Regions from separate parts of the Homo sapiens genome. Here all the other regions are linked to region 1. The links come from fine-mapping of genetic effects on gene expression. A gene starts in region 1. Each other region holds a variant in brackets. All regions are shown on one strand. Distances are from middle to middle.

The links. PIP is the estimated chance that this variant, and not a neighbour inherited with it, causes the effect. A credible set is the group of variants that fine-mapping cannot tell apart.
Region 2: its variant is the best candidate, but not a certain one, in a credible set for the expression of IL7R in fibroblasts (GTEx, PIP 0.80).
Region 3: its variant is the best candidate, but not a certain one, in a credible set for the expression of IL7R in whole blood (INTERVAL, PIP 0.60).

Annotation. Positions count from the first base shown.
Region 1 is chr5:35,854,258-35,858,506 of GRCh38, forward strand. It overlaps IL7R (interleukin 7 receptor), which reads left to right and starts at 2,634. Exons shown (of 8, transcript NM_002185.5): 1 at 2,634-2,802. The coding sequence starts at 2,721.
Region 2 is chr5:35,917,314-35,921,562 of GRCh38, forward strand. It overlaps CAPSL (calcyphosine like), which reads right to left. Exons shown (of 5, transcript NM_001042625.2): 2 at 3,671-3,807. The coding sequence starts at 3,807. Among named protein-coding and RNA genes, the nearest start is that of CAPSL, 19 kb to the right of the region's middle. The variant C/T (reference allele first, on the strand shown) is at 2,092.
Region 3 is chr5:35,828,679-35,832,927 of GRCh38, forward strand. No RefSeq gene overlaps it. Among named protein-coding and RNA genes, the nearest start is that of IL7R, 26 kb to the right of the region's middle. The variant T/C (reference allele first, on the strand shown) is at 1,962.

The sequences.
Region 1 (4,249 bases):
TTCTTCTTTCTGTGCTTGTCTCACAAAAGTAATGACAAAGTAATATAGTAAATGTTTGTTACCTGGGGGATAGGGTGAACTAGGTGGTTCTTCCTCAGCTTTTCTAAGTCTCCAAAGGACTAACAAGACCTGAGTGAGGAAAGAGAGAAGGCACTGTTGTTCCCCCACAATCTCTAGAAGGACTGGTGACGCATGTCATTTTTCTTTGAGCTCCCCACACTTTAGGCTTCTCTCTGAGGTCTTTTCAGCATCTCCTGCCCCACCCAAGAGTAAGCACCCCTGTGGAAATCCCCAGAACAAACCAGCACATGCTGTACCAAAATATTGTGTCTTGGCTTTGTTCTTTTACATCTTCACAACTAAAGGAAAGAGATACAATCAAAATGATAGTCCACTTAAATGATAAACAAGAGAATTTAAAGAGACATAACCCAGTTACTCACCCATGAAGTGACAATCTGTTAGCAGTTTAGGAGATTTGCATTGGTAGATAGATATAATTTGGGATTTCTCCTTGAACATTAGCTTAATTCATGGGAATCTGTAATTATAGCTTTCTTGAAAGGGTATTTAGCTCAGTGTACAAAACATACCAATTTTTGTGAATCAGGCTTACAATTTTCTAACCAAGCTTTCAAAACAAGATTAGAAATGAGGGCATAAATTATTATCGATGCACAAAATTGTCACTCTTTATTTGGCTTGGAAGGGTTTTGAAATGCCCAGAGAAGGCCCTGACAAATGGAGAAGATGGAATATGTCCCCTTCAGTTGGATTCTTGCTCCGAAGTATTCCTTGAGCCTATACTCCAAAGTGTGGCATTATAACTGGTGCAGACGGAGTCTGTCTTAAAACTGAAAAGGAGGATCCAGAGACTGGTACAAATGTCCCACCTCCTTTTTTTGTTACTTCGTTATTGTCAAATAATTGTAATGATGGGACAAGCTAAATCATGAGTCTTTTAAAGTCTCTTCGATTTGCTTTACACCTGGGGGGTTGTTGCTTGTCTCTGCTAATTTTAGCCATTTCACAGGCCCATGGGAGCAATTCTACCTAATGACAGTGAATCCAACAGAAGTTCATAACTCACTGATCACTTAGTTTCTCTGCACTCCTCACCTTATAACTGCAGTCTTGTGGCATTTTTCCAAAAGAGAGCCACTGTGAATCAAGCATAGAGTTTTATGGCCTGAATCCAGGTTAGATTATTTTTTTCAAGAAAAAGAAAAAAAAATCTAACAGTTACCAAGAAGCAGTCAGGCTTTACAAATATCACCACTTTAACCATGAGGCCATATTAGGAAGGCTTTTGACTGGCATTCAGGTTTGGGGGAGTCTGAATTTTCTATGCCATGGTCTCAGATTTCTGCCCCATATACCTAGGCACTAATTTAGTTCATATGTACTATGTGTACCTGAAAAGTTGTGTGGCAATCAAATTTTCACAAATAGAATCCTGTTTTAAATACACTAAGAAAGTACCTACTTTATCCTTTAAACAAGAGGTCAGCAGACTTTTTCTACAAAGGGTCAGATAGTAAAGATTTTACACCTTTTGTACAATACAATCTCTATCTCATCTACTTAGCTCTGCCATTGTTGCATAAAAGCAGCTGTAGATGATACACAAATGGGTGAGGCTGTATTCCAATGAAACGTTATTTGCAAAAACAGGTGGTAGATTAAATTTGGTCCCAAGGCTTACTTGGGAAAAAAAAAGATCTTTTGAAAAAGAAAAAATAAATGAATAATTTTTTAAAAAATTGTTCCCTAGGTCATAGTTTGCCAGCCCCTGCCCTAAACAAATAATTCTTGAATGCCTACTGTGGTGTGTAAGATATGAGTAAATACCAGGGATACACAGAGAACAAAAGAGAAAAACTGCTATTCTTGTGAAACTTGGAAGTTGGAGGTAAGCTATTTAAAATAAACCCACAATAAAGTACTTCACATAGTGCAGACTGTTTCTTTAAATCAAAACTCACTCCAAACAACCAATTGATTCACTTTGTAAGTTTGAATTTTTGTCTTCAGATTCTTTTAAAGTGGGCCCTTAGTCAGGAGCGGTGGCTCATGCCTGTAGTCCTAGCACTTTGGGAGGCTGAGGCAGGCAGATCACTTGAGGTCAGGAGTTCGAGACAAGCCTGGCCAACATGGCGAAACCCCGTCTCCACTGAAAACACAAAAATTAGGCTGGCATAGTGGCATTTGCCTGTAGTCCTAGCTACTCAGGAGGCTGAGGCAGGAGAATTGCTTGAACCTGGGAGGTGGAAATTGCAGTGAGCCGAGATCATGCTATTGTACTCCAGCCTGGGCAACAAAGCAAGACTCTGTCTCAAAAAAATAAAAATTAAAAAAATAAAGTAGCCTCTAGCCTAAGATAGCTTGAGCCTAGGTGTGAATCTACTGCCTTACTCTGATGTAAGCACAGTAAGTGTGGGGGCTGCAGGGAATATCCAGGAGGAACAATAATTTCAGAGGCTCTGTCTCTTCATGTCCTTGACCTCTGCTTACAGCAGCAATACTTTTACTCAGACTTCCTGTTTCTGGAACTTGCCTTCTTTTTTGCTGTGTTTATACTTCCCTTGTCTGTGGTTAGATAAGTATAAAGCCCTAGATCTAAGCTTCTCTGTCTTCCTCCCTCCCTCCCTTCCTCTTACTCTCATTCATTTCATACACACTGGCTCACACATCTACTCTCTCTCTCTATCTCTCTCAGAATGACAATTCTAGGTACAACTTTTGGCATGGTTTTTTCTTTACTTCAAGTCGTTTCTGGAGAAAGTGGCTATGCTCAAAATGGTGAGTCATTTCTAAGTTTTCTTATGGATTTTGGATTATCTGTAGCATGGTTTCAGGTTATTCAGTTCCCTAACAGACCTGAGTCAGGCACTGGGTTTGAATGCAGTTTGAGAATTTCCCACATATTCAGTCATTTTTTTTAATGTTTAACCACCATGACAGGGGGCAGGGGATCAATACTATGGGTGGTTTATAAGACCTCAGTATTCTCAAGAAGGAATGCATTTCACTCCCAAGTGTAGATCTTAAATGTTGAATGATTACTCTGCTCTTACAAAAAGAATGCTCATGTAGATGCTATGACTGTACTTGTAGGAAAATGTCCAAAGTAATTTTACCTTGTCAGGAGATCAAACTGGATTCATTTTGTTTGACTTTTTAAGAAATCCTGAAAGCATAACTTTCAGGATAAGGTAATGTACAGAAGCAATAGCTTTGTCTTCAGTGACCAGTGCTATATCCTCAGCACCTAAATCAGTGGCTAGAATATAGTAGACATCCAATAACTTTTGAAAGTGTTTTCAAAATACTTTAGTTTTGAGAGATTTATGTGAGATTTTAAGTAAATAACTGACTAGAGAAAGATCTAAATGAGTTTACTCATTGAAATACACTGAATTGCCTCCACACCAACAAATTGGCCATATGTAATAATTCTTTTTGGGATCTAAAAAACTTAGTACCGAGAAGCCAACCCTGCCCATACATAAACACATTGTAATTATAACAAAACTAGGCAGAAGCTTCTAACAGCAGCAGGAGGCATGTGGGAATTTAGACCATCAACTTGCTCCTGCAAATTAAGCCCTTTCTCTTTAAGAGTTAAAAACTATTTGGCTATAGACAATATCAAACACATCAGCCTAATGACTCAGCTTATGCATTTTGAGTCATGTAATTACGAAGGATGGAAATCCCTAGAATTTTCTCATTAAGGGAATTGTCAGAGAGTTTGACATTTTTTACAGTATATGACTCACTTTATGGGGGATGATTATTATTCTATGCTAAACTTTGCCTTGGATTTCCACAAAGACTGATGGGAGGCAGGAAACATAAATCTTACTCTCTTTCATGTCATCTATACTCACTAGTTCACCCTGGTGATCATACTATTTTTAAAATATATAAGAATGCTAGTTGAAAGCTGGGTTTTCACTCCAACTTTTTAAGTTTCAGATTTTTTAGAAGATGTATAATTACCCTATTCACATGATTACGTCAAAATACTTCCCAGTTTGGGGTATAGGAATTCACATTCAGTTGCTGCTTGTTGAAAGTTGTCAATTTTCTGATCATCACAAGGATGATCAAGAGAAGAAAGGGATACTTTTTAAAAATCCAAATCATTTACACTATTAATCAACTAACTCCATTCAGTAGGAAGAAGACTTCTAGATGACACTGGCTTGCCTATGATACATATTCCACACAATTTAAATTTTTA
Region 2 (4,249 bases), 63 kb after region 1:
CTCAGGGATCTAGAACTAGAAATATCACTTGACCCAGCCATCCCATTACTGGTTATATACCCAAAGGATTATAAATCATGCTGCTCTAAAGACACATACACACGTATGTTTATTGTGGCACTATTCACAATAGCAAAGACTTGGAACCAACCCAAATGTCCAACAATGATAGACTGGATTAAGAAAATGTGGCACATATACACCATGGAATACTATGCAGCCATAAAAAATGATGAGTTCATGTCCTTTGTAGGGACATGGATGAAGCTGGAAACCATCATTCTCAGCAAACTATTGCAAGGACAAAAAACCAAACACCGCATGTTCGCACTCATAGGTGGGAATTGAACAATGAGAACACATGGACACAGGAAGGGGAACATCACACACCGGTGCCTGTTGTGGGGTGAAGGGAGGGGGAAGTGATAGCATTAGAAGATATACCTAATGCTAAATGACCAGTTAATGGGTGCAGCACACCAACATGGCACATGTATACATATGTAACAAACCTGCGCGTTGTGCACGTGTATCCTAAAACTTAAAGTATAATAATAATAAAATTTTAAAAAAAAGCTTATCGTCATTAGAGAAATGCAAATCATGTCAGTTAGAATGGTGATCATTAAAAAGTCAGGAAACAGCAGATGCTGGAGAGGATGTGGAGAAATAGGAATGCTTTTACCCTGTTGGTAGAAGTGTGAATTAGTTCAACCATTGTGAAAGACAGAGTGGCATTTCCTCAAGGATGGAGAACCACAAATACCATTTGACCCCACAATCCCATTACCGGATATATACCTAAAGGATTATAGATCTTTCTACTGTAAAGACACTTGCACACATATGTTTATTGCAGCTCTATTCACAACAACAAAAACTTGGAACCAACTCAAATGTCCATCAATGATAGACTGGATAAAGAAAATGTGGCACACATACACCATGGAATATCAGGCTGCCATAAAAAAAGGATGAGTTCATGTCCTTTGCAGGGATATGGGTGAAGCTGGAAACCATAATTCTTAGCAAAGTAACACAGGAACAGAAAACTAAACATCGCATGATCTCACTCGTAAGTGGGAGTTCAACAATGAGATTACGTGGACACAAGGAGGGGAACATCACACAGTGGAACATGAACTTCAGGGGGTGGAGGGCTAGGGGAGGGATAACATTAGGAGAAATACCTAATGTAGATGACAGGATGATGGGTGCAGCAAACCACCATGGCACATGTATACCTATGTAACAAACCTGCACGTTCTGCCCATGTATCCCAGCACTTAAAGAATAATTTTTTTAAAAGATGGAAAGTTGGAGTAATCAGAATCTAAAGACTTTTAAATGTCCTTAAATGCTAAAAATTTGAACTTTATTAGCAAGTCATTTTTAAAGTCATTAAATGGTTGACTTGAAGTGACATTATCAAAATAATGAGAACTTTACCCATAAGAGAGCTAACAGAACTCTAGCAATAATGGGTTGAATGAATTGGAGGACTGAAAACTTAGGAGCAAAGGAACCAGCAAGAATACTATCATAAGAGTCCAGTGAAAAAAATGTTGAGTGTCTACACTTGAGCAATTGGGATGAAAATAAGAAAAATAAAGATTTCAAGATATTATAGAAATAAAGGAGTCAATATGGTGGGCTAATGAAGATAATTCTAAAGTTTTCAACCCAAAGACCTGGAAGAGTAGTAATACTGTTAAAACCGTAGGGGCTGCAGAAGAAGCTCTATTTGGAAAACAAAAAACAAAAAAAATGACTTTTGTTTTGTTTGGATTGGATACTAAGTCAACTATATAGAGATATTCACTGGTTAGCTAGTATCTTTCCTGATTAAAAAAAAAAATATATATATATATATATATAAAAATTGTGAAATTAGTTTGGATCTCAGGAACGGATAGCATTCCAAGAACGTGGCAAGGGGCCAAGGTACAGATGTGCTAACTCAGGAGTAGCCAAGTTGTCTGATAAATTAAGGATACTAGCAAAAGAATCTTGAGAATTTAGATACTAGAGAAGTATCTACATTTACAAGGCAATTGGAAATGACTAAGAAAGAACGTATACTGTTGAAAA[C/T]CACAAGAATTTCATGTCAAAAAATGAAGGTGCCAAGGTTATAAATAACAAAGTCATCTTGATCTTGGTCAGGATAAAGACTCAGGGTGGAAAGATGGTGCCGGGAGTCAATGCTTCACAGAATGCTAAATGTTGTGCAGGGGGGATGATGGCAGAGCCTAACCTGAAGAGATGCCCTTCTAAGACAGGATTTATGGGAAAGAAATAAATGAACAAAGGGGTGTGTATGACCTGGGATTTGGAGTTAGACTGAAGGAGAGTGTTCAGTCTTCAACTGACCCTAAGGTAGGAGTGGAGGAGAGGGGCAGCTTCCACTTGAGTTAGGAGTTACTTAGAGAAGGCCAAGGCCAGTAAGTGAGGCAGATGGCACATTCTGCAAAAGGCTTAGGATGGAACGGTGTCCATTGACTGTAGACTGGTTCCCAGTGGAAAGGCTGGTAGAGACGCAGTGTGCAGTGGGTATGGGGTGAAGATGGCACAGGTAGCAGGAGGGATTCCACTGAGTGAACCAGAGAGTGGAAGAGAGGATTCCTCAAGGGTTTGCACTAAGGACAATGATGTGGACCCATGATGAATGGGATAGAGGTGGAAGTGACACAATATTGAGGGCATGGGTGCTGGTCTTCCCATTGGACTGGGGCAGCCTGGCCACCAGGGTCCATATCCCCACTGCCTGGCCTTCTGACAGAGCTGGGCTTAGTCTGAGACTTGGGACTGTTCAGAGTTTTCTCCCAGGCACTCAGTACCTTGCTGGAAGTGAAGCCTTCCGCATCTTCTGGGTCCAAGGCTAGATTTCCCTCCCATTGGCACCCTGTACTTCTCTAATAAACAACTTCTCACACCACTGAGATGCCATTTAGATCACTCATATTGTCCATAGTCTTAGTCCTCCATGGGGGCTTAAGAAGCCTTGTTCACCCACGGGTCCCTGAGATGTGTCCAATGCCTGGCCCATGGCAGGCTCTTGATGGAGTTTCTTATAATGCACAGGACCTGCCCTCAGGAGGCTCACAATCTCCTTTCCCTTTTGGTTTCTCAGTCCTTAAAACTATTCACACTCAGAGGACAGAGGGTGGGAGAACAGGAGCTACCCAGCTGAGAGAACCCCATTGGCAGTGAGCTATCAGTTATCTGACAAGCAATACCAGTGTCCCTGGAAGTGATGGAGAAATGATTGCCCGAGAGCAAAATTCCAAATTCTGCAATTAGGGCTAACTGGCTGTTCCTTCCTCCCTCTTCCACCCTGGCCTTTATTATCACAGCTGCAGAGAGAGTCCCTCTCATTGTCCTGGTAGGCATCTCCATGCCAGGGCACATGCTGCTTCTCCCTTTACCTCATATTTTCCCAGAGCTGCACTGTCTTGTAGCAGATATGAGTCTTGCCGAATCTGGGACTAAGATCCAAAAACTGTCACAAGGGACCTCATAGATCAACTCTTCTAAACTCTACATTTTACAAATAAGGAACTGAGCCCCTAGGAGGAGATGACTTCCCCAAGACCACGTGGCCAACATTAGCCTCACCTGGCAGAGTCATTCCTTCCCGCTCCATTCCCTGCCACTTGTAGCTGGGTCCTACCTGCCAAGTCCTTTGATCCCAGCAGAGCCCCTGGCCAGGCACTGCAGTCGGAGTCTTTCAATGGGGTCGGTGGCCGTGGTGAGCTTTTTCTTGGCCTGGATCGCCATCTCTCGGTCATGGCGCGCTGTCCCTGCCATCTGAGGGGAAGCCATAGCATGTTAGCAAAGTCCAGGCCTCGCCGCTGCCTCTGGCTGGGCAGAGTGACAGAAGCCTCACTGAGAAGGAAATTTACAGCCTTCTCTGTCAGGAAACCTCTCAGAATTTCCAATTTTTCTCTATGCCAACTGTGTGCCTGGCATATTTATAACTTACTTATCTAGTCCTGAGGACATCTGGTTTCTCCAGCCTAGACAATAATCTTAAATATATCACCATTTCCCAAGATGTTTTGATCTTTCTGAAGCCCTCTTCCATCCATAAAAGAAGTGCAATTTCTCTATACTCTCTTTTTTGAACCAACATTATATACCATATTATTTTATGTAGAATTTTCCATATTCCCTTGACCCTCACATTTAATGTTCTCCTCTTTGGTCTAAACATTGATTTTGTTGCTTCTGTCTTGAATGAGATTTTCAG
Region 3 (4,249 bases), 26 kb before region 1:
ATTTAAAAACAGTAATTTTTAAATGGTAAAGTGCATATGGATCACCCAAAGATCTTATTAAAATGCAGATTCTGATTCAGTAGGTCTGGAATGGGGCTGCAAGCCTGCATCTCTAACAAACTCCCAGCTGAGGCTGTTGCTTCTGGTCCATGAACGATACTTTGAATAACAAGTACTTTAAACATTATACTTACTCTAATACATGCTGGTAGAAATGTGAATTAATACAGGCTTTTTGGAAGCAAGCTTAGAAAATCCCATTAAAATCAAAAATATTTTAAGTCTTCAACCCAAAAATCTCATTACTGAGGATCTAATCCATAGGAAAACAATAGATAGATAGATAGATATAAATATATTAATAAATATATAGGTCATATATATTTATCAATGCTTTTTTCCCAATAAGTAGAAAACAAAGCCCTACTTAAAGGAAGCAATTGAGTTAATTGTAATATAACTATAACATGGGACACTGTGCTATCATTTAAAAAGAGAATAAGATTTCAGAGATAACTGGTTCGTTTAGAGATTTCCAGAATGTATTGTTGTTGTGTGTGCAAAGCTAGACTCAGGCAAGTATATATTATATAATCCTCTTTTTGCAAAATAAAAGACAAAAAATTAAATGCATTTGTTTGTCTTTCCATATATGAATGTGTGTAGTGTCTATACTCATAGATGTGTATATGCTATATATGATTCTGTCAGCATATAGAAAAATATGTAAGATATGCTCTAAGTTATTAGCCTGAATTTAGAGGATAAAAGATTATTGTGCATGAAAGGGCAAACAAACAAAAAAAATGAGAGGAAAACTGCATTTGAATAGCATGTTTAATATCACATTCATGTAAAATTAGGGGTGTATGTGTATCTTTATACATAAAGAAATTGAGGGCCTAGTGCAGTGACTCATGTCTGTAATCCCAGCACTTTGGAAGGCCAGGGTGGACCGATCACTTGAGGTCGGGAGTTCAAGACCAGCCTGGCCAACATGGTGAAACCCTGTCTCTACTAAATTAGCTAGGTGTGGTGGCTCACACCTGTAATCCCAGCTACTCAGGAGGCTGAGACAAGAGAACCTCTTGAGCCTGGGAGGCAGAGGATATAGTGAGCCGAGATCGTACCACTGTACCCGGGCCTGGGCAACAGAGTGAGACTCCAACTCAAAAAAAAAAAAAAAAGAGAGAGAGAGAGAGAAATTGGAAAACCTTGGCGTTTTTTTTTGTTTGTTTGTTTGTTTTGAGACGGAATCTTGCTCTGTCACCCAGGTTGGAGTGCAGTGGCGAGATCTCAGCTCACTCTAACCTCCGCCTCCTGGGTTCAAGCAATTCTCCTGTCTTAGCCTCCCAAGTAGCTGGGACTACAGGCACATGCCACCTTGCTGGGCTAATTTTTGTATTTTTAGTAGAGATGGGGTTTCACCATATTGGTCAGGCTGGTCTCGAACTCCTGACCTCAGGTGATCCACCCGCCTTGGCCTCCCAAAGTGCTGGGATTATAGGAGTGAGCCACTGCGCCCAGCCATCTTATTCTTTTTATTTTTAAGAAACCTATATATGCCATCAAGCACTATATATATATATATATATATATATATATATATATATATATACACACACACACATTTTAAGGTAAAACATGAGACTTCAATGTCCTCAAAACATGTCCTCCTTCTTAACTTACTTCAAATGACTTTGAGATGAAGGTTTGAGAATTCCTGCTTAGATCATTGCTGCCTACATAGTATCTCTCAGTTTCATTGCTCTGAGTAGAAAAAAGAAATGACAGTGAAGATTGATATTTTAATAATGACCAGGAAGGTGATGATCTGGGATCACCCCATATCAGTTACTTCTAACAGCAGGCACCTTATAGTGTCTATTATTACTTAAGTAATAATAGTGATTAAAGCTCCTTGAGTTCTGCTTTGAGAGTTAGCACCTGACTCCTCTTCA[T/C]TGAGCTCAGAAACTGCCACCTATCCGCAACACCTTCCTCTTTAATGCTTGTTCTCCCCATTTTACTCCCCAACCCCCACTCCGAAGAAATAAACACCAAATTAGCAGTATCTATATCCCACATCACGGTGCAGAATGTGGGGCAGATTACCAAAGGATGTGAGAGGCACACAGTTTGAAGTCTTTTTATCCTCAGAGTTAAGAAACATTATTTTTTCCTCCCTACCACTACCCACATCTGAGCACAATCAGACAGACAGCCAAAATACACATATGGCAGATCAGCTAGAAAAAAAAATACGGCCATACTTGCATTTTGTTTTGAAGATTTTCAGATAATATCAAAGATTGTTTCCAAGCCACAGTCCCAGTTTTATAGTCCAGGGCAATGCTTTAACCATTTCAGAAATGAAAAACAGCATAGGTTTCCAATTCTTTCTCTTTGGAAGCTCTGGAACAGATCTTAGTTCACTTCAATGACAAAGCTGTTTGATCTAAACAAATACATAATCTGATACATCAGGTGCTGTCACCCAAAATGTTTATTTTTATGAGAAATTGAAAAGTAGTAAGATATCTAGATATCCAAAACATCTACTATGTGCTTCCTTCTCTTCTAAGAAGATTCCTTCCTAAAGGAAGGTTCTAACCATGGATTAGCACAAAGACAGTCTTCCTTGTCTCATTTTTCTTGTTACCTGCAGTAATCTTTCATACAATAGTGTTGGTGGGTAGTATAATATTTACCTACAGTTAGCTAAGGAAAGTCTGCTTCAGTTAGCATTCTAAGGGTTTCAGGTGTCAAGTAAGTGTAAACATTTGCTCTTCCTTGGCAAATAACTTTATGTCATTCTCACTCCATCTTTAGGAATCAAATGTTATCCACCAAGTAGACAGGAAGTACCCAAGCCTGCATGGATGAAGTGGTGATGGCCATTACTAAGAGCAATTAGGAGAACCACAGCCTCTGATCCATAGTAACTTCTCTTTCCAGCCAAATACTGACCTGGAACTAGGCAGTAAGTGTCCAGGCTCACTCTTCCGTCATAAGGCATTAGCCGCTACAAGCTAAGAAGAGACCAAAGAGATAAAGTGTCACTCTATCTCCTCCACAGCTTCTCAAGAATTAAAGGGTCCATTGGAAACATGGATTCTAGTCCTGTTGCTGGCTTCTGGAAATGCAGCCAAACAGTACTGGGGACATAGTGTGAGCCACAGATTGGGCGGGACACCCTGTGATAAAACATCAAATTTGTCACACACGAGACATATGCTTTGCAACATGTGTGTCCCTCTCTCATAACTTCACAGCAATGGCATAAGCAATATAATAGTCTCCAAGAAGTACAATTCTATTGTACAATTCTATTATCTTCAAACATCAAACATATATGATAATAAGAACTAGGATGACAAATGTGCTTTCTGATTAAAGAACATTTTTTCAGAAGATTATTCTTTTCAGAGTTAACATCTTTGGGATTGAAATGAACCTTACAATTAATATCATCATAGGTTAGTGAAATGCAGTAAATAACAATATTAAATTCACATATCAATGTTGTTGGTTCTAAAGCAATTGCAAATACTTGTGAAATAAGTTGATCTCTTAATCATGCTCTATCATGTTTTTTGTTTATTGGTTGGTTTAACTGTGTTTTAACCTTGGAATCGTTTTCTTTATTGCTAGTACCTAATTAAACTTCCCTCTAAGTTACCTGATTTACTAAAATTCTGAATTATTTGATGCCACAATAATGATATTTTGCTTTAAAGGCAATTTCTACTGTTATTGTAATCATCTCATCTGTTTCTATCCTGGCTTGAAGCCCAGCTGTCTGGTCTTCTCATTGTACCTGATTCCATTTGAATGGACTGTAACTTATATTTAATCAGTATAAAGGGAGGACTATGTAGTTCTAAATTTTTTCTCCTTGTTTTCATTCAAATGTTACATAGATTTTTATTTTTAGAACTGAACACCTTTTTAAACAAATATACTCGTGCTTAGCAGGACACTAATCTGACCTACTTCGATGGGAATGTGTTGAACAATTGCAAATCACTTACCAACACTGGCTGACCTATTTTCAATCATATAAGGTTTCTCTGAAACATTTATCAAGAGGGAACATGAATTTAAATCATTATAGAATTGTCTCTTCAATCAAACAAGAGCAAAATGACAGAAAATGCTACTACAAAATCCTATCCTCTGTTTTTCAGATAGTGTCATCTTTTTCCATGATCCTTTTTTTTTTCTCCCTGAGTGTTGACTCATTATCACC